7 linked regions of the Homo sapiens genome follow. The protein of the gene in region 4 purifies or fractionates together with the protein of the main gene of each other region. This does not show direct contact. Each region holds a gene or a part of one and is shown on either strand. Other genes may lie near its edges. The genes, in order: ERGIC2, POGLUT3, TTC17, ENPP7, SLC25A15, NAAA and POGLUT2.

What was found.
Region 1: the proteins of ENPP7 (region 4) and ERGIC2 purify together in Homo sapiens (affinity purification with mass spectrometry; 2 studies listed by BioGRID and IntAct, with this or other methods). This does not show direct contact.
Region 2: the proteins of ENPP7 (region 4) and POGLUT3 purify together in Homo sapiens (affinity purification with mass spectrometry; one large-scale study listed by BioGRID and IntAct). This does not show direct contact.
Region 3: the proteins of ENPP7 (region 4) and TTC17 purify together in Homo sapiens (affinity purification with mass spectrometry; one large-scale study listed by BioGRID and IntAct). This does not show direct contact.
Region 5: the proteins of ENPP7 (region 4) and SLC25A15 purify together in Homo sapiens (affinity purification with mass spectrometry; one large-scale study listed by BioGRID and IntAct). This does not show direct contact.
Region 6: the proteins of ENPP7 (region 4) and NAAA purify together in Homo sapiens (affinity purification with mass spectrometry; one large-scale study listed by BioGRID and IntAct). This does not show direct contact.
Region 7: the proteins of ENPP7 (region 4) and POGLUT2 purify together in Homo sapiens (affinity purification with mass spectrometry; one large-scale study listed by BioGRID and IntAct). This does not show direct contact.

The regions. Positions count from the first base shown.
Region 1 is NC_000012.12:29,343,173-29,346,672, reverse strand, and holds part of ERGIC2 (endoplasmic reticulum-Golgi intermediate compartment protein 2), read left to right. Parts: intron 1-1,132; coding exon 1,133-1,230; intron 1,231-3,390; coding exon 3,391-3,500. UniProt on the Homo sapiens protein: Possible role in transport between endoplasmic reticulum and Golgi.
Region 2 is NC_000011.10:108,474,385-108,477,884, reverse strand, and holds part of POGLUT3 (protein O-glucosyltransferase 3 isoform 1 precursor), read left to right. Parts: intron 1-173; coding exon 174-278; intron 279-2,932; coding exon 2,933-3,058; 3' UTR 3,059-3,500. UniProt on the Homo sapiens protein: Protein glucosyltransferase that catalyzes the transfer of glucose from UDP-glucose to a serine residue within the consensus sequence peptide C-X-N-T-X-G-S-F-X-C. Can also catalyze the transfer of xylose from UDP-xylose but less efficiently.
Region 3 is NC_000011.10:43,396,920-43,400,419, reverse strand, and holds part of TTC17 (tetratricopeptide repeat protein 17 isoform 1 precursor), read right to left. Parts: intron 3,074-3,500; coding exon 2,929-3,073; intron 2,447-2,928; coding exon 2,307-2,446; intron 533-2,306; coding exon 372-532; intron 1-371. UniProt on the Homo sapiens protein: Plays a role in primary ciliogenesis by modulating actin polymerization.
Region 4 is NC_000017.11:79,733,943-79,737,442, reverse strand, and holds part of ENPP7 (ectonucleotide pyrophosphatase/phosphodiesterase family member 7 precursor), read right to left. Parts: intron 2,401-3,500; coding exon 1,774-2,400; intron 403-1,773; coding exon 183-402; intron 1-182. UniProt on the Homo sapiens protein: Choline-specific phosphodiesterase that hydrolyzes sphingomyelin releasing the ceramide and phosphocholine and therefore is involved in sphingomyelin digestion, ceramide formation, and fatty acid (FA) absorption in the gastrointestinal tract.
Region 5 is NC_000013.11:40,803,111-40,806,610, reverse strand, and holds part of SLC25A15 (mitochondrial ornithine transporter 1), read right to left. Parts: intron 1,494-3,500; coding exon 1,356-1,493; intron 1-1,355.
Region 6 is NC_000004.12:75,920,514-75,924,013, forward strand, and holds part of NAAA (N-acylethanolamine-hydrolyzing acid amidase isoform 1 precursor), read right to left. Parts: intron 611-3,500; coding exon 438-610; intron 288-437; coding exon 225-287; intron 1-224.
Region 7 is NC_000013.11:102,786,379-102,788,976, forward strand, and holds part of POGLUT2 (protein O-glucosyltransferase 2 isoform 1 precursor), read right to left. Parts: intron 1,546-2,598; coding exon 1,456-1,545; intron 1-1,455. UniProt on the Homo sapiens protein: Protein glucosyltransferase that catalyzes the transfer of glucose from UDP-glucose to a serine residue within the consensus sequence peptide C-X-N-T-X-G-S-F-X-C. Can also catalyze the transfer of xylose from UDP-xylose but less efficiently.

The sequences.
Region 1 (3,500 bases), on a different chromosome or scaffold from region 4:
GTAGTTTCTTTAGTTTTCTTCCTACTGTAATATCAGTTCCTTGTATTTATTCAAAGGCTAGCTAATTTGATTTTGGTTTAGTGTATATCTTAAGATATTAGTAGAAACTGAAAATATGTCTTGTGGTGGTTATTCTCTTATAATTTTATTTTATTCTTAGTTTCTGTACTATAAAGAAATGCTGGCTGGGTGCAGTGGCTCACACCTATAATCCCAGCGCTTTGGGAGACTGAGGCAGGAGGATCACTTGAGCCCAGGAGTTTGAGACCAGCCTGGGCGACATGGCAAAACCCTGTCTCTACTAAAAATGAAAAAAATTTAGTTGGGCTTGGTGGCGTGCATTGTAGTCCCAGCTACGCAGGAGGCTGAGGCGGGAGGATTGCTGGAGCCCAGGAAGTCAAGGCTGCAGTGAGCCGTGATTGCGCCACTGCACTCCAGCCTGGGCGATGGAGTGAGACCCTATCTCAAAAAAAAAAAAAGGAAAAAGAAAAATGCTACTTTTCCATAATTGATAAAAGGATGTTAACGATTTTAAGGAATATTTAACTAAGTCACCAATTCATTTTTTTAAACATCTGTGTTGCCCATCTTATGCTTGCTGAGAACTTGTTTTACCGAGTATAAATATGTTGCTTTCATTGGTTCTTTTAAAAATTTTTTTTGTTAGACATTAAGTTGTATGTAACATTACATTTCAGATTAAATGTTTTTATTTTTTATTTGTTTGAGACAGGTTCTTGCTCTGTTGCCCAGGCTGGAGTGCAGTAGCACAATCATGGCTCACTGCAGCCTTGACTTCCTGGGCTCATATGATCCTCCTGCCTCAGCCTCCTGAACAGCTGGGACCCACAGGTGCATACCACCATGCCCAGTTAATTTTTAAATTTTTTGTAGAGACAGGGTCTGGCTCTCTTGACCAGACTGGTCGCGAACTCCCAGACTCAAGTTCGAGACTGTTCTTGAACTCCCACACTCAAGCAGTCCTCCTTCGTCAGCCTCCCAAAGTGCTGAGATTACAGGTGTGAGCCACCACATCCAGCTAAATTTCAGGTTAAATGTGTTTAATAGAAGAATATATTTGGCAGTAGTTTTGTTGCTACTGAATTGATAAAAAGTTTTTTTTGTATTCTAGACAACCAGATGTTCCAATATTTTATTACAGTTGTGCCAACAAAACTACATACATATAAAATATCAGCAGACACCCATCAGTTTTCTGTGACAGAAAGGGTAAGTTGAATCCAACCGGTAAAATAATTTGGTGATTTTTTTAAAAAAGCATTTTAAAGTTTCCTGGCTACAAAATAAGGTGGTGTTTTACTTGGTGTCTTCCCTCATTTAAAAATCTGTGGAAGTTTTGAAATGAATTAACATTTTATTTTAAATCAGAAATATGTCAGAAATGAATATTAGTATATTCTAAAGCAATAAAAGTAGATATTTAAAAAATCTGAAAGGTTTTCTATTGCATTAAGACTTAAAATTGTTAAATTGTGATGGCCTTAATTATTTTATTCTTAATGTCTTAATTTTATAAATGTTTTCTCATAAATTGATATAAGCAGTTCTTGATCTGGCAGCAGATTCTTTGAATTCTGTTACTTATTTATTAATAAATGTACTACCTTCTCTGGGCATACATGGTTATCATGGATTAGATAGCAAATTTAGAGGGTTTGCCTTCCTAAATTAATGCTTTGTATTCATCTGATTGTGATGAAGAACATTCCACTACCTCAGGGTGGTATGGCCATATAAGTAAATACTGACAGTGATGAGCAAAGTTTTGGAATTGGACAGTTTAATAGATTTCTTATCTACTTTGGGGTCATGTTTTCTTATTTTTGTGTTTGAATGGTGAATTCAAACACTTGTATCCAGAAGAATTCTAAGGCAAAATTTAAGTGCTTTAAAAATTTTGCTTTCCTTTATATAGTGTTTTCTTTTACTAGCCTTATAACTCATGATGACCATGCCCTCAATAATTGTGGAATTTTTTTTTTTGTTCTTATGAGATTAGGTATTGGAGTTTTTAGGGGTGAAGTGTCATGTGTCTATAGCTTTTCACTTGGCTTGGGAGAAAGTACAAGTTCATATAACTGCATATATATGTATAGGTATGTGTGTATATACACTCACACAAAGAAACTAGGTAAAGTTTATACCAGAACATATTGTGCTTTTCAACATTTCTTTAAGGAGTAGGGAGATTCCATTTCTCACCTGTAAGATTGGCAAACACCTCAAGGCAATACATACAGTTGAGAAGACTTTGGGGAAAATAGGCAAACATGCAGTGCTATGGGGATGCAAAGTGGCATAATCTTTGAGGAAGGTAGTTTAGCAGTATCTGCAAAAGGACCTATGCATTTATCCTTTGACTCAGCAATTGCACTTCGAGAAAGCTATTCCAAAGATACGGTGGGCAAAAATATAAAAATGTGTGTTTCAGGCTATTCGTTGCATTGTTATCTGTAATAGTAGAAGATTAGAAACAACCCAGATGGTACATCTACACACACTGGAGGAAGATGCAATTGTTAAAAATCAAATGAGAAGGATTTCTATATACTGATAGGAAAATATCTCCAGGGTATATTTTTAAAATAACAAAGCCAAAAATACATATGTAATAGAATCCCAGGGCATTTGACTGTTGAAGGATGTGTTTATACTGATAGGGTGACTAAAATAGTTTTTTAACTTAAAAAAGAATGGAGTAACTGGGGTTGGTAAAATGCAGGATAGGGGGTGGGAGGGAGAGGGCTGACATTCATTAGTCCTGGAACCCAAAGTGAATCATTATTAGTCTTTCATTATGTATATGCCCTGATCCCTAAAACAGTTTCTACCCTTATAGGTAGTGACAATATATTTATAACTCAGCATGATATTGAGCATTTTAGAGCTTTAAGATGTAGTCACTTTATTGGAAACTTGATCAGTTGGCTTATAAGGCTGTATTGTGCTAGTAATAGGGAAAGAGTTTTGTAATGCCCTACGTAAAACTGTTTTAATTTCCCTTGGTAGTAGTTAACCTCATTATTTGTATTCCTAAAGCTTGCAGTTTAGTTATAGCATGAGGAACATGCCATACATATTTGTAAGCTCTTGAGCTCAGTAGAAAACTTGTATCTAAGGTGACCTTTTTGAGAAAAAAAGAATGATTCTGCTCTTTTGATAGTTTCAAAAGCTAACCACACAAAGAATACAAAATAATTTGTCTCTGAAGAGCTTAGTCTAGTAGGACAGTTCATAAGGAAATGTGGATGTCCTTCTTTTACAGTAGGGCTTCAGGGCTTAATATTGAATGTATGTAAGTAACCAGATGACATGAATTCTGTTTCTCTCTTCCTCCTATTTCTCCCCTTCCTTTTGCCTCCCTTTTAGGAACGTATCATTAACCATGCTGCAGGCAGCCATGGAGTCTCTGGGATATTTATGAAATATGATCTCAGTTCTCTTATGGTGACAGTTACTGAGGAGCACATGCCATTCTG
Region 2 (3,500 bases), on a different chromosome or scaffold from region 4:
GAGCCACCATGTCCGGCCCCTGTAGCCTCATTCTTAAGTTATAATTCCATTATGTTCTGGCTTTCCCATGCTGTTCACTTTCAACCCCACATCTGTCCCACCTCACACTTAACCCTCTCTTTGTGGGTCGCAGTAGTAATTTTCATTCATTTTTATTTTTTTTAACCTTTCAGGAAAATGATGAAGAAGCCAAGAAGATTGCAAAAGAAGGACAGTTGATGGCTAGGGACCTACTACAGCCACACAGGCTTTACTGCTACTATTACCAAGTACTGCAGGTCAGTTCAGAGTGTCCGTCCACACTGCTGGGTCGGGTGTCCTCAGACTACCCGCTTGGCCTGTACACTTCCTGCCTGGCTTCCTGAAGGACTCACAGTCAAGCCTATGGACCACTGGCTAAGCCAAGGCACTTGCCTAGGGAAAGATAGTGCTAAGTCTTCATTTGGTGGCCCCCTTTTTTTTGTTTTTTGTTTGTTTGTTTGTTTTGAGATGAAGTCTCACTCTGTCATGCAGGCTGGAGTGCAGTGTCTCAATCTCAGCTCACTGCAGCCTCTGCCTTCCAGGTTCAAGCAATTCTGCCTCAGACTCCCAAGTAGCTGGGATTACAGGTACACGCCACCATGCCCAGCTAATTTTTGTATTTTTAGTAGAAACGGAGTTTCGCCATGTTGGCCAGGCTGGTCTTGAACTCCTGGCCTCAGGTGATCTGCCTTGCCTTGGCCTCCTGAAGTGCTGGGATACAGGTGTGAGCCACCACGCCCAGCCGTGGCCTCCATATTTTCATCTTTATTCCATATTATGTAAAACGACGCTGGGAGCCCTCACAAATATAGATTAGCAACTCCTCCCATCTTCTCAGTGCTCTCTTTTATTAAATGCTTTATTGAATTCCTAGTGTAGGTGTTCTGGAACCTCAGAGAAAAACATTTTTTCTTATTTGGAAAACAAGATGGTTGGACTGGAGATCATTAACATCCCTTTTTACTCAAAATGTCGCCTCCTTATTCTCCTTGATACTTAAGATTCATGCCTTTTATAGTACAAGGCAGAATGCAAATATTTAGCTTGCTGTAGCAAACAAACTAATGAGAAATATGTATAACAGTTCTAACACCTTAGGGCTGAATCCTGAAGTATAGTGTTTATTGGGAATCCGAGGATTGGTCTTTTGAGTAACTACCTTGAGTTTTACTCAGAAAAATCTAGACAGGAAGAATAAAAAAAGGAAATTATGTTCTTGTTTTTAACCTAAATTTATTTTTCTGTAGGCATAGTAAAAGTAAATTTCCCTAGATGCTTGTGGATACTACCCTCTCATATTTTCATTTTCATAGAAAAATAAAAATGATAAGTTACACTATTTACTAGAAGCAGCCCTTCCTTCCCTTAAATTGGTCTGTCCCCTCTGTTGGTCTAGCTTTAATCGTTAAACAGTTTTTTTAACAATTTCTTGGCCGGGTGCAGTGGCTCACACCTGTAATCCCAGCACTTTGGGAGGTCGAGGAGGGTGGATCACCTGAGGTCAGGAGTTCAAGACCAGCCTGGCCATCATGGTCAAACCCCGTCTCTACTAAAAATACAAAATTAGCCAGGTGTGGTGGCACATGCCTGTAATCTCAACTACTCAGGAGGCTGAGGCAGGAGAATCGCTTGAACCTGGGAGGCAGAGGTTGCAGTGAGCCTAGATTGCACCACTGCACTCCAGCCTGGGCAACAAGAGCAAAATGCATCTAAAAATATATATATTTCTTACTCGGTCACCTAGGCTGGAGTGCAGTGGCATGATCACAGCTTACTGCAGCCTCAACCTCCTAGGATCAAGCGATTCTTCCCCCCTCCCACCTCAGCCTCCCACTAGTAGCTGGGACTACACCACCACACTCAGCTAATTTATTTATTTTTTTTAGAAACAAGCTCTTGCCGTGTTTCCCTGGTTCCTCAAGTGATTCTCCAGCCTCAGCCTCCCAAATAGTTTCAATTTTAATGTTAGGAATTTCTCTCTCTAAAATATTAATTAGGCTTATCTACTGTGTCAACATTTTGTTGCATTTGGTCCAGTACCAGGAATATACAGCAAAAGGGACATGGAATCATTGAATTGAAATATCCAATTTATGTCTGGGCAGGGTGGCTCATGCCTGTAGTCCCAGCACTTTGGGAGGCTGAGGTAGGCAGATTGCTTGAGTCCAGGAGTTGAAGACCAGGCTGTGCAACATGGTGAAACGCCATCTCTACAAAAAATGAAAAAAATTAGCTGGGCATGGTGGTACGCGCCTGTAGTCCCAGCTACTTAGGAGACTGAGGTGTAAGGATCACTTGAGCCTAGGATGTTGGAGGCTGCAGTGAGCCAAGATCACGCCACTGCACTCCAGCCTCAGTGACAGAGTAAGACCGTGTCTCAAAAAAAAAAAAAAACAAAAACAAAAAAAACTCCATTTATAGAAATATTTCACTCAGGGCCACAGTGGAGGAACATTACACAGACCTGTTGCCATTCAAAAATGCGTGTGACTATAGGCCTAAAAGAAAGAATGTGTGAGACTGCCAACTTTTCAGATGGTTATCTTGTTTGTTTGCTGGCTTGAGTATTCAACAAAGTTAATTATTCAATAACAAGTGGAAAATAAATGCTGAGAGCTGCTGTTTGTTTCAGGTAGGGACGTCTGGCTTGGCATCCCTTTTGTAGAGGCTTCCAACCAACACATAAAATTGTGGATTGGGGTTTCTTGCTAGATTATGAATTATAACTAGTGCCTGTGATAGCTAAAGTTAAAATGTAACTTTAGGACTGGAATAAACCAGACCTTTGGTTTTAGTCTGCAGACACACAGCAACTAGAAAAGATGGCGTGACTGCGGATGGGAGTGGGTGGGGGAGTCAACAGAATGCAGTGTGAACTAACCTTTCAGTTCCCTTTAAACCCACGTTTCAGAAATATGCCGAGCGCCAGTCCAGCAAACCCGAAGTACGTGATGGAATGGAACTTGTTCCTCAGCCAGAAGATAGCACAGCCATCTGCCAGTGCCACAGGAAAAAGCCTTCAAGAGAAGAACTTTGAGTCAGCCCAGAATCACACTCCTGTGTATCCCGGCTACACTTTAAGGAAAGATTGAATCTAAGCTGTGAAGGACAGTATAGAAGACTGCACCAAGTGGACTAGTTCTCCCGGTGGCTTTATATATGTAGATGGATATAGCAGTACTGGTTGAGTATCCCTCATCTGAAATGCTTAGGACCAGGAGTGTTTCAGGCTTCAGATTTTTTAAGATTTGGGAATATTTGCATGTACATAATGAGGTATCTTGGGGATGAGATCCAAGTCTAAACACAAAATTCATTTATATTTTATATATACCTTGTTCACATACCCTGAAGGTAATTTTATATAATATTTTTAATAATTTGTGCATGAAACAAAGTTTGTATACATTGAACTGTCAGAAAGCAAAGGTGTCACTATCTTAGCGACCCAAGTGGTGGTGTCAGCACTCAAAAAGTTT
Region 3 (3,500 bases), on a different chromosome or scaffold from region 4:
ACTCTCAGGCCTCAATTCAGACCTACTGAATCATAATCTGCATTTCAACAAGATCTCCAGGAGACTGATATGCATATTAGGGTAGGAAAAAAAACTGATGTTGAACACAGAATGCAAATAACTGTTAAGACTTCTAGGATCTACAAGACTTGTTTTTTATTTCAAAATGTAAATTTGAAAAAAGCAAGGTAGACCAAACCAGCTCCCCAGGCCTCCTGGTATACCCACAGTGATGAATCATGCTTTCGAGATGTAGGGAAGTCATAAACACAACTTCACACTGCTTTAAGGCTACAAGAAAGTTATGATAGTAAAGCATGCTAAAAGTGAATTTCCTAACCTGTCTTCAATTACTTGGAGTCACTACTTACCTAATTGTGCCTCTTTTGCCATCTGAGTCTCATGAATGATATTTCTTAAGATTTGCTCCTCCTGAATCAGTTTATGTTTTTCTAGGATTTCCTGCTGTCTCAGGTAGTGGTCATGCTGCTTTTGATACTCTTTTAACTCATTCAGTGTTCGCTGGAGAGATCTTAACATTTTTTAATACCAGGAAAAAGTTAGAGCTATAAAATCATAAATTTTAAACCCACTTAAATGCACAGATTTTTCTGGTTCTCAGCAACAATTACTGTGTGTTTTCCTTTTATTTAACATACAACCCTGTATCACCAGTTCAAGAATACTAGGGCAAAAAGATAAATGTGAAATTCTTCCTTTAAATACAACTTTTTTAAAAAATGGGGTCTTGCTCTGTTGTCAAGGCTGGATGGAGAGGCCTGATTGTAGCTCACTGCAGCCTTGTACTCTTGGGCTCAACTCCTGGGCTCAAGGGGTCCTCTTGCCTCAGTCTCCTGGGGAGTATCTGGGACTACAGGCACACGCCACCATGCCTGGCTAATTTAGTTTTAGAAACTGGGTCTTGCTGTGTTGCCCAGGCTAGATTTGAACTCCTGGCATCAAGTGATTCCTCCCCTCCACCCTGCCTCAGTCTCCAGAATAACTGGGATTACAGGCATCAGCCATGACACCTGGCAATACAACTATCATGACATCAAATGGTATATTGCATTTTTCAGGTGCCATAAAAAAATACATGACGATATACAAGTTTATGTATTTAACAACTCTATTTCTCTCTACAAAATTTGCATTAGTTCCATCAACATTCAAAGTCTTTCTAGAATCCTTTCCTCCTTTTCACTTTTTCCCTAGATTCTGCTTAAAGACAAAGTTAAGAGTTAGGGGCCACAGTACTTTGCTTTCATACTCTAGCTTATTGGTTACAGGCCAGGAAAAACTACAGAAACTATGCTTCGAAAGGAATATGCTTCACCACCTGATTTCAGTAAATCAGCTGCCTGATTACATTTAATCAGAAAACCCATACTGCCTATTACACACTGTAACATACAGAGATTTTAGGAACTATACAGATTGTGTAAAGATAGAGCCAGCTCAATTATTAAGAGCATGATACTGGAAAAAGCTCAGCCAGGTATAACAGAAACCAGTTATGAATAAGCAAGCTGGCATCCTTTTTACTTCCTACCACATTATGCCTTAAAAAGATTGGAAAAGAAGCAAATACAAAAGTTTAATGAGTTCTAAATCTCTGTTTAATTCTCTACTAACCAAAGTAAACTCAAATATTACAGCTAATTCTGAGATATGAAAAATTCACTTCTGAGTTAACATGAAGTTTCTTAACTAGCCCTACTGATTGAAGGAAATGTTTTTTAACTTATTATACCTCAAGGATCAAATACAATAGAATTCCATTACTGTACAACCTAACACACAATCATGATTAAAACGTGGGCCAAATAATGTCTCTCAATGCCATTTAACTACCTTAACAATAACTCAACCCTAGGAGCCACCACCTCTCTCCAAGAGGAGAAATATCAACTATTGCACATGTAAGTGATTTTACTGAAACTTAGTATATTCTATGCAAATAAAAATGCAGTCAACAAAGTAAGTAGTCAACTAAGTATCCCAGTCTCCCCACCCCAACTGACTTCATAAAAGTAATCAATGGTCAAAATTGTAAACATTTAAGTGACAGCTTTTACTACAAATATTCTCTAGTTGCAGGAATCCATACAATTAAAGATATTCCTCTACACAACCACTGAATTGTGCTAAACCACCAGGACTTACAGAAAAAGGATAGGACTTGCAGTAGTGAAGAGGTTTCTTTCTTAATTCCAGTTACCAAATTAACACTGATATCCCCTACACAGATTTAACCTAAGGTTCGATAGTGCTAATGCTTGAGTGAAATTTTTCCTCTCAATTACCTATGCTGAGCCTCCAATTTCTGCTCCAGTTTTTGCTGACATAGGACAGCATGCTTCCTCTTTATAGCTTGCTCAAACCCAGGTCTGGCCTGCAAAGCGTGGTCATAACAGAGCACTGAGTGGTTATATTCCCCAAGCATCTGAAGAGACAAAAACAAACATACACACACACACACACACACACACACACACACACACACACACACACACACGGAAAAAAAAATGTTAGCCACGGCCTGGTTGCATCTGTCCAAATCCTCTAATGATTTATGAGATCACACCTACCTCTTACTCTACAGTGACCATTATTTTGATCAGTGACCAGATCCCTACAATATTAAGGCATACTATAGGATGGTTTAGTTGGCAGGTATTGCTAACCTTAAAAGGTGTACCCTGTAGAAGTTTAAAATTCCAATTTAATTATTATTATTGTTTTTTTGGCAAGAGGCTAGAATAATTACATTACTGTGTTGAGGATTTTTCTTCCTCCTAATTTCATTTCCATCGTTCAGACCAAAAAAGGAATGGAAAAAAGTAACATTCTACTGAGGGGGGAGAAAAAAAAAAAAAAAAGAAAGTGGCAACTAGCATGACTCATGAAACAAAGAGTAGTACTTACTGCATATATATTCCCCAAAGTGTAATAGCTGGTGAAGAAGTCACTGTCATCCAGAGCTGCATGGACCACGACAGCAGCATCAGCAGAGAAGTGTGCTCTGTGTAGAACGTTTGCCAGGTTGACCAGGGCAATGTCTTTATTGTGCCTAAGGAAAGCAGCACATATTCCATGATTATGTAGAACCACTTGACAAGGAAAAATGACATTCAAAGTTACTTGTGCTTAGGAAACTAAGATATAGGTGGAGAAAATAAGATAATCATAGTGTTTCATTTTTAAATTATTGATGGCTCTTAATCTGATAGCTACAAATTTTGTCACTAAAATAAGGTATTGCAGACACTGTATGATTTTACAATTTATTTAGGGCTTATATTTGCTTTAAGAAAAGTTAAACTTAGTTTATGATAATTCCATTCAAGTATCATGTGAATCATAGGGCATCTACATATTTTTTCCTTAATGGAAATGGAAAGTATATTACACAATTATCACTTTGAACTTTTTGAGATCTGTGATTTTTTTTTTTTTTTTGTGGTGGGACTTATTTCTTTGAACAGGGATGGAGAAAA
Region 4 (3,500 bases):
CATGAGGTGCTCGTGAGAGGTCACGTGTTGTGGGAATGTGAGAGATTCTGGTGTTCTCCAAAGCCAGGGGAGGTGGCCCCACTTGGGGCTCAAGGGTGTCCTGGTCACAGGCATGCAGGCACCCTCGTGTGCACACGTGTACACACCAGAGCAGGCGGGGATTTGGGGCACCCTGCCCTCACCTGTGTGCAGCATGGGCAGCAGAGTAGCTAGGTGCCCATCGTTGGCCTCGGGCACGATGCCCAGCAGCCGGCACATGAGCTCGTACACGTGGACGCTCTCAAAGGGCTCCACCTCCAGGCCCGCCCTGAAGCTAGGGCCCACAGCGCGGAAGATGGTCTTCATGTCCATGTCCTTGTTGTCAAAGCCGTGCTCCCCATTGTTGAACTGGACGTTAATTCTCTGCCGGGGAGCGGGCAAGGGTCCTGGGTCCTTGCTGGGAGCAACAGACCCTCTCCGCCTACCCTATCCACCCTATGAACACCCCCTTAGGAAGGAGCACCAACGTGAGGGCTGGAGGGGTTCCAAGACTCAGTTTCCCCGAATTCTGAGCCTCCAAAGATCAGTCACCCTAAAGAGTGAAGTTCAGGGAAGGTCCAGTTAAATGAACGGAGACCAGACCCTGAGTAAATGGGAGTGGAGCGGGCAGCTCCAGGCTTCGGGGCCTGCCGCCTGTGCGGTGTTGAACGCTGCCTCCCATCGGTCACTTCCTTTCCGGGGATGTCTGCTCCCTAATCTGTGCTTCGCTTCCGGCTCAGCATCCCTGTGCTGTCTGCTGAGGGGAGGTTGGGCTCCTGACTCTTTCCTACCTCTTCCATGTCACCCTTGGGGCTGGACTTCTACACTTTACCCTGGACACGTAGGACGCACACACACACACACACACACACACACACACACACACACGCCTATCACACAGTGCCTGGTCATGATGGATACAGACGTGCACACACACTCCCACTGCCTGGTGCCTGAATGTGGAGGGCACACACAGATGTGCACACACCCTACCGCATAGTGAAGGAAGTGTCCCTTCGGTGCTGACACTCCTCAAACTGGGGACCAGCTAGAAACAGGAAGTGCCTCTATGGAGATGGAAGGAGAGGCCAGACGCAGTGGCTCACCCCTGTAATTCCAGCACTTTGGGAGGCCCAGGCAGGAGGATCGCTTCAGCCCAGGAGTTTGAGACCAGCCTGGCCAACATGCAAAACCCTGTCTCTACAAAAAAATACAAACATCAGCTGGGCACAGTGGCTCACACCTGAATCCCATAACTTTGGGAGGCTGAGGCGGGTGGATCGCCTGAGGCCAGAAGTTCGAGACCAGCCTGGCCAACATGGTGAAACTCTGTCTCCACTAAAAATACAAAAAATTAGTCAGGCATGGTGGCAGGCGCCTGTAATGCCTCAGAGGGCTGAGGCAGGAGAATCGCTTGAACCCAGGAGGTGGAGGATGCAGCGAGCCAAGATGGCACCATTACCCTCCAGCCTGGATGACAAGAGTGAAACTCTGTCTCAAATGAAACAAAACAAAACAAAACACACACAAAAATTAGCCAGGCATGGTGGTGTGCACCTGTGGTCTCAGCTACTCAGGAGGCTGAGGTGGAAGGATCGCTTGAGTCTGGGAGTTTAAGGCTGCAGTGAGCTGAGATCCTGCCATTGCACTCCAGCCTGGGCAACAGAGCAAGACCCTGGTCTCAAAAAAAAAAAAAGAAGACCCAGAGCCTGGGGAGGGAGCCCCTGGAGGTGGTGCCTCCAGCAGGCGACTCACCCCATGGATGACGTAGCCAAGGTCGCTGTACATCAGCAGGGGTGTGACCCTGGGGTTGTTGGCGTAGTGGAAGGCCTCGGGGAACGCCTCCTTCTTGTAGACGTGGAGCTTGGGGTGGGCGTCCTTGAGGGCATCGTACACCTTCTCCAGCCTCCCTTCTTTAGGGAGCAGCATCCCGTTTGGTCCGTAGTCCAGGAGCTCAAACTCGATGTCCCGGAAGGTGAAGTTGGGGAACTTGTGGAATTCAACCAGGTCGCCAGCCCGTTTGTCCACGGTCGTCATGCCGTGGTCGGATGTGATGATCAGGTTGAGGCGGTCTGTGAGGTGGTTGCGCGCGATGCTCTCCCGGAGGTAGCCCACGGTCCGGTCCACCTGCCGCACCATCTCCCTCCTCTCCGGGGACTCGGGGCCGTACCTGTGGCCCGTGGAGTCCGGCTCCCCGAAGTAGAGTGTGACCAGATCCAGGTCCTCCTCTGTGAACCACGCCATCACTGTGTCGATGTTCGCTCTCCACTCCGTCTCATTTTTGTAGTTGTGTGCGATGCCTTCTTTCCGGCTCCGCGTCACAGCCACCCCTTGGTAGGTGACGTTCCCGCCCGGGTAGAAGAAGGAGCCAGCCCTCAGGCCCTGCCAGACAAGGCAGCGTGAAAGACAGGACTCCTCAGTGGGCTGCCCCTTGTCTCATGCCTGTGAACACATTTGTCCCCCACGTGCCTACTTCTCTGTTCCACCCACCCATCCCTGCTCCTAGCTGCAGCTGCGGGGCCTTTAATTTCTAAAACATCCCTGATCTCATGTTCTATGGGGGTAAAACCTGATTTTATAGAGGAAACAACAGGTGCCCACTGGACTTGAGCACTAAACAAGACATCAGTATAAAGATGTTCCCAGAGGCCGGGCGCAGTGGGTCATGCCTGTAATCCCAGCACTTTGGGAGGCCAAGGCGGGTGGATCCCGAGGTCAGGAGATGGAGACCATCCTGGCTAGCACGGTGAAACCCTGTCTCTACTGAAAATACAAAAAAATTAGCCAGGCGTGGTGGCGGGCGCCTGTAGTCCCAGTTACTTGGGAGGCTGAGGCAGGAGAATAGTGTAAACCCGGGAGGCAGAGCTTGCAGTGAGCGGAGATGGCGCCACTGCACTCCAGCCTGGGCGACAGAGCGAGACTCCGTCTCAAAAAAAAAAAAAAAATGTTCCCAGATACGCAGTGTCTGCCTCATCACTGTCCATCCCACCTGCCCGTCCACTCCCCCAGGATATTCTTTCATTGGATCAAGAGCCTTGTGATGCCAGGGTCTCTACCTTGGCTTCCTGCTCACCAGCCGGTGGAAGGAGCCCTGAGTGTGTCTATGATCCTTCTGGAGTGAGGGAACCCCGGCTTGAGTGGATAACTTGGCTCTGGGGTGGGCATGGGCTCTGACATTTATTCCAGCGTCATCTTGGAAACCTCCACTGACTTTGTTTACTGGAAGCCTCGCCTCTGGGCCAGGAAGCCCCCAGAGCATTGCAAACTGGGGGTGGGTGGGGGGGTTCCTGGGTCAATACTGTAACCCACCTCTCATTTTGTCTTTGGCCCTTTAGAATTTAGCTGTTCAGCTGTGACAGGGATGTGGAAAGGGAGAAAGTCGTCTAATTGTTAAATGCTTTCTTGTTGAGTCACAGTGATCTTCCCTGTCCGACCCTCACCCCCAATGCTGCAGGGCCCAAGGGTGCAGTTCTCCCTCCGAC
Region 5 (3,500 bases), on a different chromosome or scaffold from region 4:
ATTTAAAAACTATTTTCCTTCTGAGAGCTTCAGAAGACACTGTCAGGTATTCCCCATCAGCCAGCCCTTCCTGCAGCACTGCTACATGGAATGTAACAAAGTAATCCAGCTCAACACAATTAACCTCCCTTCCAATCCGAGTCTTAGCCCCAAGCTACCATACCATGCCTTGTGTGAACACTGCTAGACCTCAAATACAAAGTCAACTGATAATTCAAGGTGTTGATCTGCCTAAGTCCTTTGGATATAACTATTACTATCTTTTAATTACCTTGAATTACTTCCAAGGAACATGAGGGCAGCTTTCTGGGTGTTGTTAATGTTCTATTTGTTAATCTGGACACAGGTTACAAAGGCACATAAATTGTGTCACTATTTATAGAGCTGCATACTGTGACTTCAATGTGCATTCATGATACTATGTGTATTATTTCAATAAAAAGTTTTAAAGACTTACACTCTTGGACTTCTAGGCAATGAATATTAGATTCAAGTTGGCTGTAATGAATCTCAAGGGTGCAGAAAATAGGGCACTTTTCCAAACCCCATTCTCACTGAGTGGGGACTGATCCTTGAAAATGGTCAATTTATCTACTGCTTTTTCCCAGCAGATTTATAGGCTTTGAGTTAACCACAGCAATATCCTTGGTCAGAACTCAGCCAGATGTCAAGATAAGTAAGCAAGTTTTGCAATTAATAAGGATAATAAATTGCTTTCCAATTCAAGTAAATCAAATTGTGTATGAAACAGTACTCTCAAAGGATAATGAGAATGTGTTTTCAAGAGTGAGCTAGAGAGTGATTTAATCACTGAAGAGTAGCTATGCTTATAAAAGTATTGATTAATGTTCTCAGAACTTGGGCCATCTGCAGGTACACTTGAAGGACTGGGGATAAGTGGGGTAAGAATAGTTACCTCTAGGATCTGGGTCAATCAGCCTGAATACCCATACGAAACCTGAAGTGGGGATCAAATATTCATCTCAGAATCCAAATTGGCACTTATGAAGGCTCAGGTCTAAGGCAAAGTTCAAAAGCCACCCATTATGTACCTCCAAAAATGGCTGAAGATCATGCCTTATGTTTCCAAGAGGCCAAAAAGGGTGTTAAGCTCCTGGCTTCTCCAGTTCTGGGGTATTAAATATCTGTCTAAGACTTTTTATGCAGTGGGTGGTGGGTCCCATCACAGCCAATCCTTTCAGAAAATCTCTGATAGGGGAAAGCATTCTAGAAACAATATTTTGGAGTAGATAAATTGGCTTCCACATCTGCCACTTTAGTACAATGTAAAATGAAAAATCATCCAATACACTAGGGCAATAGAGACCTGACGTTTGTGCCCAAGTGGTGCTTACTTCTGGCTCTTGGCTATCTTCCCTGATGTCTCCATCTCATACATGGTCTGCAGCCGGCACTTCACGAGCTCCGTGGGGCAGAGCACCAGTGCAGCAAAGGCAGAGGCGAAGGAACCGGCGGCTGCATTCTGCAGATCACTGAAAGCACACAAGCAGACAGTTACCCCTCAGTTTCTTCATTCCTTTGGCACTCACCACACAGACAGCACTTTGGTGATAAAGCAGGGTAAGGAGCCGGGCGTGAGGGCATGAACCTGTGATTACAGCTACTTAGGAGACTGAGGTGGGAGGATCACTTGAGCCCATGTGTTCTAGGCTACAGTGCTATGACTGCATCTGTGAACAGCCACTGCATTCCAGCTTGGGAAACAAAGAGAGACCTCCATGTCTAAAAAAATGATGAAAGGGCCGGGCGCCGTGGCTCACAACTGTAATCCCAGCACTCTGGGAGGCCGAGGCGGGCGGATCACGAAGTCAGGAGATCGAGACCATCCTGGCTAACATGGTGAAACCCTGTCTCTACTAAAAATACAAAAAAAAAAAAAAATTAGCCGGGCGTAGTGGTGGGTGCCTGTAGTCCCAGCTACTCAGGAGGCTGAGGCAGGAGAATGGCGTGAACCCAGGAGGCAGAGCTTGCAGTGACCTGAGATTGTGCCACTGTACTCTAGCCTGGGCAACAGAGTGAGACTCCGTCTCAAAAAAAAAAAAAAAATGATGAAAGGAAGGAAACTTGCATGTGCTGTTTCATCTAAGGATCCCACAACCCTATGAAGCAGACAGCAGCACCCCAGTTCCCTATGGGAAGTGACACTTAGAGATGACATAATGTGGCCAGTCACACAGCTACTAAGTGGCAGTGCTAGGATGTGAACCCAGGTCTTCCTGACTGCAACAACCATATTCTTTTGATTACACACAGCGCTATGGACTGAATTTTATCCCCCCAAGGTGATGGTGTTAGGAGATGGGGCCTTTGGGAGTAATCAGGTGTAGATGAGGTCATGAGGATAGGGCCATTGTGATGGGATTAGTCCCTTAGAAGAAGAGGCCAGAGAGCTCGCTCACTCTCTGCCATATGAGGACACAGTGAGAAGACGGCTATGTTCAAATTAAGAACAAGCCCTCATCAGACACCAGATCTGCTGGAACCTTGATATTAGACTTTTCAGACCATAGAACTGTGAGAAATGTTTGTTTAAGCCACTCAATCTGTAGTATTCTGTTACAACAGCCAAAGCCAAGATACATCGTGACATGACAAAATAAAACGCCACAAAAAAACCTAAAGGAAAGGAGGAAAATATTGCCCATAGTCCCCCACTGAAAAACATGCACTATTAATACTTCAGTGTGTCTGCCCTAAGTTTTAAATAAATCTAGGTTCTAAGCCTATCCCCACATGCCCACAATCCAACCTGGAGCAACCAGATGTGCAATGTAACTGCCACAGATGAAAACCCAGAAAAAACGTTTAACCAAAAGTTGCTGCATCACAAAAAGATTTTCCAGTTCAACTGGTGACCTACCACCTCAGCAACACAGACGAGGGTAAAATGGTGCCACAGGAGTGGGTGAAGCCAGTACAAGTCTGCAAGCTCAATGGTATTAGGTGAAATTGCTAAACTGGAAATCTAAACTAGGCAGAGGGATGAATGCACAAATACAAAACAGAAGCATTCACCTCATGTATGGATTTAGTACCAGCAGCCAAATGTCACCAGCAGGGTTGTGAAACTGGAATCCAGTAAGAGTTCAAGAATATGGGGAGGCCAGGCGTGGTGGCTCATACCTGTAATTCCAGCACTTTGGGAGGCCAAGGCAGGCAGATCAGTTGAGGCCTGGCCAACATGGCAAAACCCCGTCTCTACTAAAAATTAGCCATGCCTGGTGGTGCACGCCTGTAATCCCAGCTACTCTGGTGGCTGAGGCACAAGAAGCGCTTGAACCAGGGAGGCAGAGGTTGCAGTGAGCCAAGATCATGCCACTGCACTCCAGCCTGGGTGACACAGTGAGACTCTTTCAAAAAAAAAAAAACGAATACGGGGAAAAGTCTGAGAAGTGTTTCAGAAGAAAGGCTTCTCTGCGAGTTCCTGGTTCATGGGAGTTGGGATAGAAGATCCCTTCCAGCCCTAGAAGAGTGTTGTG
Region 6 (3,500 bases), on a different chromosome or scaffold from region 4:
TGACCCTGACAGCCTCCCAACACCCGCCCAGCTGCTGAGAGGCTCTGCCCACTGCTCTCCTCCACACAACACTCCCTTCCCAGCCAAGGCACTGGCGAAGGGGCTCAGGTACATTTTCTGGGAGAGGATAGCACCCATAGGTCTTGCCAGTTCCTGTGACAGAATGGGCATATTCTCCTGACCATAAGAAAACACTGCAAACCAGAAAGCACGTAGCAGCCTACCTCCGGTCATCTTCCTTGGGTGCTGGCTTCCAGTGGTCGTAATTTGTCTCAACTCGGAACCACCTACAACAGAGCACATCATCTTGTCTTATCCAAGGCAATTTACGACATAGCAGAGGAGACATATGAACAAATTTAAAATACCCCTCATTTCACCGATTAAAAAAAATGATTATCTGATACAAAATGACCAGAGCTTTCAATTCTACTTACGCTCCATTCAAAGGATCTAGAGGCCAAATGTCTGCTGGGCCATCTCTGTTCCTCGTGATGACCACCCCCTCCCGGGGGGACGTGCCACCAACAATGTAATAAACATCAGCAATAAGGGGAGTCTTGGCCAACTTGCCAACAGCTGCTTCGAAGTTTTCCGACTCACTCAGGGTCTGAACGAAAGGATGAACTTGCGTGAGCAACCCCACCTGCAGTTGGGTCCACACCAGATGATGCAAAAATGATCCAAAGCACATTCTCCTGATATGTTATGTCATGACTATCACCTTGATCTGCTCTGACCTTATCCTCTTGTTATCAGGGCTCCTAAGATGGAAGAAATTTCAGCTTCAAAGCGGAGCCAGGAGCAGCAGGAAATTCTGACAGGAGGAGAGAACTGTTGACAAGCCCTAGGCCTGGCTCAGCAAACACCGGCTGTGTGCTCTCCAGGCAGATCGCCCTCACAAAGGACTTTTTGTGCTTCTTCATTCATTTATTATTTAAACAGGGTTTTCTTGAATATCTACACTGTGCCAGGCACTGTGCTGGTGGGGGATAGAGCAGTGAATGAGTCGCCTGGTCCTATTCTCCCCAAGCCTCTGAGGAAGACAGAAAAGTCAACAACCAATGGTGACACAGTGTAATGAGAGTTCACATAGGAGAATAAGATGCTATGGACGTCACAGTAGGGGTCCCATCCTCACCAAGGGCAGTGGAGGAGGTACTGCTGGGAAGCATCGCATGAATTGAAGCTAAAGAGACAAACACAAGTGAGTGGTGAAAGTGGTGGTTGCAGGGTGAGGAGTGGCAGTGGGGAGGAGGGTTCTAGTTCGATGGACTAGACTGGCAAAGGCTTGGGGATGAAAGAGCATGCGCTACATTAGCGCCCTGAGCTTAACTGGTGTTCAGACACCCCGAGGGCGCATGATGACTTCCAAAGGCCTGTGGCAAGGATACTTAAGGGGATCACTCCCCAAATCTTCAGATTCCATATGGGCTCCTTCCTAGAGCTGATCTGCTCAAGAATATCCTTCGGTGGAGGGCCTGCTCTTCCTGTCTCCACCTTCACAACCACTCTGCTGCCATGTTTTAAAGGAAGTACACTGTATGCTCACCCATCCTGGATATTGCCAGGGCACATTGTCAAGGGTGGAGGTGGTGATAGGGTCAAACAAAAGAACAATTCAAGGTATTGGTGTCTGCAAAGGCTCCGTCATTCAGCACCATAAACCTTAACAGCAATAACCATAAGGCAAGAAAACTCTACAAAACCCATGGCAGGGCTTTGTAGAGTTTTCCTGCCTTATACTTAGCTATGCAGGGAGGCTGAGGTGGGAGAATTGCTTGAACCCAGGAGATGAAGGTTGCAGTGAGCCGAGATCATGCCACTGCACTCCAGCCTGGGTGACAGAGTGAGACCCTGTCTCAAAAAAAAAAAAAAAAAGAAATGATCTGTCCTAACTTGTTTGACTGTAGGTCATATGATCCCCTTTCCAGAGAGGATCCTGCCCTGTACCTGGAAGAAGGGAATGTATGGTCAGAGAGGCCAAGAAGAATCTAGACACACAGGCCTAGCTGGGTTTCCCCACTCCATCTATTAGCACTGGATCTACCTTTTTGTTCAATCATATTTCTACATGGCATTCCATACTTTGTTAAACCTAAGCATAAAAATGGACAATGTCCCCTGTATCTTTGGGTCTTCATTCTGAAGACTCCTATGTCATGTACATGTTAAATAAATTTGTATGCCTTTTCTCCAATTAATCTGCCTTTTGTGAGTTGACTTTTCAGTGAACCATCAGAGGGCAAAGAAGAAATTTTCCCTTGGCCTTTGCAGAGGTAATAGGAGTGATGAAATATTTGTTTGCTTATGTTGCCTATACCATCCCCCAACTACTATCAAATTCATTTTCTCTAACCTGTGACAGCAAAGCAAAAGAACATCCATAAAAAATACTGAAGGCACTGGTGACTTATTTTACCCAGGCGACAAAGTCAGGGAGTGCAAATGCATCTATCTCAGGAAATGGAGGAAATGGGCAGTGACTGCTAATAGACATGGAGTTTCTTTCTTCTTCCTTTTTTTTTTTTAGTCTAGGTCCCAGAGTTTCTTTTGTTATTTCATTTATTTACTTCTTTCCAGACATGGGGTCTCAATGTTGTCTGTTGGACCTGAACTCCTGGGCAGAAGGGATCCTCCCGCCTCAGCCTCCTGAGTGTCTGGGACTGCAGGCGAGCACCATCACACCCAGCAGATTCGTCCTTACCAGAGAACATAGCAACCTCAGCATATGGATTTTTTTTCTTTCCTTATCAAATCAAGAACTTTCACCTTTTTGATACAGGAGATAGAAAGAAATTAGGCAGATAGTGAGGGTAGAAGAGTCCTTGGCAAGGCTTCCTTTCTAACAAAAAGTAGCCCAAGAAGTTATTCTTTTCTAACAAAGAGCAGCCTGAAAAATCGAGCTGCAAACATAGACAAGCAAGCTGGAAGCTTGCACGGGTGAATGCCAGCAGCTGTGCCAACAGAAAAGGGCTACCTGGGAGCCAGGTATGTTCAAAACGGAGGCTCCATCTTCCCTTCTTTTTTCTTTTTTTTTTTTTGAGACAGAGTCTTGCTGTGTCTCCCAGGCTGGAGTGCAGTGGTGTGATCTCGGCTCACTGCAACCTCTGCCTTCTGAATTCAAGTGATTCTCCTGCCTCAGCCACCCAAGGGGCTGGGATTACAGACACCCGCCACTACACCTGACTAATTTTTGTATTTTTAGTAGAGATGGGGTTTCACCATGTTGGCCAGGCTAGTCTCGAACTCCTGACCTCCTCACTTCTCTGCCTCGGCCTCCCAAAGTGCTGGGATTACAGGTGTGAGCCACCGCGCCCGGCCCATCTTCCCTTTTCTTTGTCACCATGTGTACAGTAAAGAAGCAGGCAACATGGCACCAGCCAGGTAGAGAATCCATCAGCATAATAAAAGATTAGGGTGGGGGCAGACAGCTTTTCATGCCCTATGCAAATGGTACACCTGGTCCAACCAATCTTTGCTGCCCTATGTAAATCAGT
Region 7 (2,598 bases), on a different chromosome or scaffold from region 4:
CTTTATATCCACCCAATGAGAGAGGCTAGAATATATGAAGACTATGATTCATTTAACTCATGTGTGTCAAACTGTGATCTGCATAGTCCGTCATATATACCAGTTCTGAACATCAACAGTAGAGCATCTGAGAGGAGGCCATCCTTTGAACACTGGCTGCCTATTCCTAACAGACACCTCTTTATGCTATCCTAAATTTCCATGACTTTTTTTTTTAACCGTCTTCTGCCTCACAGTAAAAATAATTTTGCACACAATCTTCCCTAGACTGAGAATGTGAAGACAGAGACTATTCTGCTTTCCTTATCATGGCTTGCACAAGCCTCCATCATCATCTTCATTTATCATGTGCTTACTCTGAGTGAAGCACTGTGCTAAGTACCTATGCTAAATGAATGAACACTGCCCCATGGATCCTTAGAAATTCACATGGTAAATCCCCCCAGTTTATTCATTTTACACGGTTTGTCCTCTGCTTCCCTCTATCAAGGGAAGGTTACAAAATCGGGAGGAGCCAGTACAGGCCAGAAATACACCAACTTTGATCTGTAGCAGAGCCTCAGATATGGGGCTCAGTATCTGCAACTGTGAGATAAAACTCTTACTCTAGATCTAGTACTGTTATTAGCCAAGAACTTGTTTACTACCTGATTTTGTTTTTTTTTTTTTGTTTGTTTATTTTTTTGAGACAGAATCTCACTCTTGTCACCCAGGCTGGAGTGCAGGGGTACGATCTCGGCTCACTGTAACTTCCACCTCCCGGGTTCAAGTGATTCTCCTGCCTCAGCCTCCCGAATAGCTGGGATTATAGGTGTGCACCACCACACCCGGCTAATTTTTGTATTTTTAGTAGAGACGGGGTTTCACCATGTTGGCCAGGCTGGTATCAAACTCCTCACCTCAGGTGATCTGTCTGCCTCAGCCTCCCAAAGTGCTGGGATTACAGGTGTGAGCCACCGCACCCGGCCTACTACCACATTTTTAAAAGAGTCCTTTAAATCGTCGGATATGCTTGATTACAATCTCTAAATGCTTAGGTCCATGGAAATAATTTCCAAGGGAAGTCATGGCTCATACAGAGTCAAGACAAGAGGCCCAAACACACCTGGCACTGTTTAGACAAAGAAATGGTAAGGCAGCAGCAATGTAACACAAAGAGAACATACAAATCCATGCACTGTAACTTTGTAGGATCAGAGGCCAATTTCTTAGTCAGACATCACATAGTTCTAATATTAATAGTTTTCGCTTAATATTGTAACATTTTCCATTAGCTAATCTTTGGTTTTCAACTATTTTTTTATGATTACTTAATATTTGTCTCTGATTTTCATCCACAGAAGTATATATATCTCCCTATAGTAACATATGTTTAGAAATTGTTAAGTAAAATATTATTTGTTCTTAACATGTCTACTTATAAGTTACGTGATGATTTTCTTGGAAAATACTGACCTGGAAAAGTTTGAAATAATAACAGAATATGTCATCGCCCATGAGATTATTTCTTGCAAATTCTTGTCCTGCTTTTGCTATCTTTTTGGCCTACAGGAAGAACAACGACAAAATCCTGTAATAGAATCCATTTTTCCCATGCAGGCATCTGCAAACTGCTCTTCAGAGTATGTATACATTGGGGCAACTGTGGGAAATAATATCTTTGGGGGTAGTCTCATGGTAAAACAGAACATTTAACAGAGTATGTTTGTTTAAATCAGAGGGAGGTTTCTAAGACTTAAAAGTTTGAAAAGTCATATTGGACCTTCTAGAACTAAGCCTCTCCTGGAGAGACAAGGTTGTACACCAAGCAAACTGATGACTTTGTAAACGCAAGATGAAGCTTAGCCAGCTGCCTTCACAAATTTCAGGAGACAATTAGCTTAAAGTTTATTGCATTCCATCCCTCTTTATTTCTGTATTTATGGCTGCATCTACTTCTGAATCAATCCCTCATTTTAACCTGGAGCCTGTTAGTGACTTCTGCCAGACTGGCCATCTTACAATTTTCACATTGCTAGCGGAGGCAATGCTTGTGGCTCAGAGCAACGCTACTTGAAAGAGAAAGTGTAATCAAGGCCACAGTTTAGCTTTTTGTTGTTGTTGTTGTTGTTTGTTGTTGTTGTTTGAGACGGAGTTTTGCTCTTGTTGCCCAGGCTGGAGTGCAATGGTGTGGTCTCGGCTCACTGCAACCTCCGCCTCCCAGGTTCAAGTGATTCTCCTGCCTCAGCCTCCCCAGTAGCTGGGATTACAGGCACCCATCACCACGCCAGCTTATTTTTGTATTTTTAGTAGAGATGGGGTTTGACCATGTTAGCCAGGCTGGTCTTGAACTCCTGACCTCAGGTGATCTGCCTGCCTCAGCCTTCCAAAGTGCTGGGATTACAGGCACGAGCCACCGCACCCAGCCTAGCTTTTTGTTTCACATGCAGAGTGGAGAGTTAATGTAAGATGCAGTGCCCGCTGTGTTCAGCCTAGGGGAACTGCCGTGCCATCTATGGGCAGGCAGCTTCCCATTTACAGGCCAAAGTCTATTACGTGAACATCCTGGATGCTCTCCAGGTACAATACATTTCAAAAGGACCCATGATATTGGGAAAC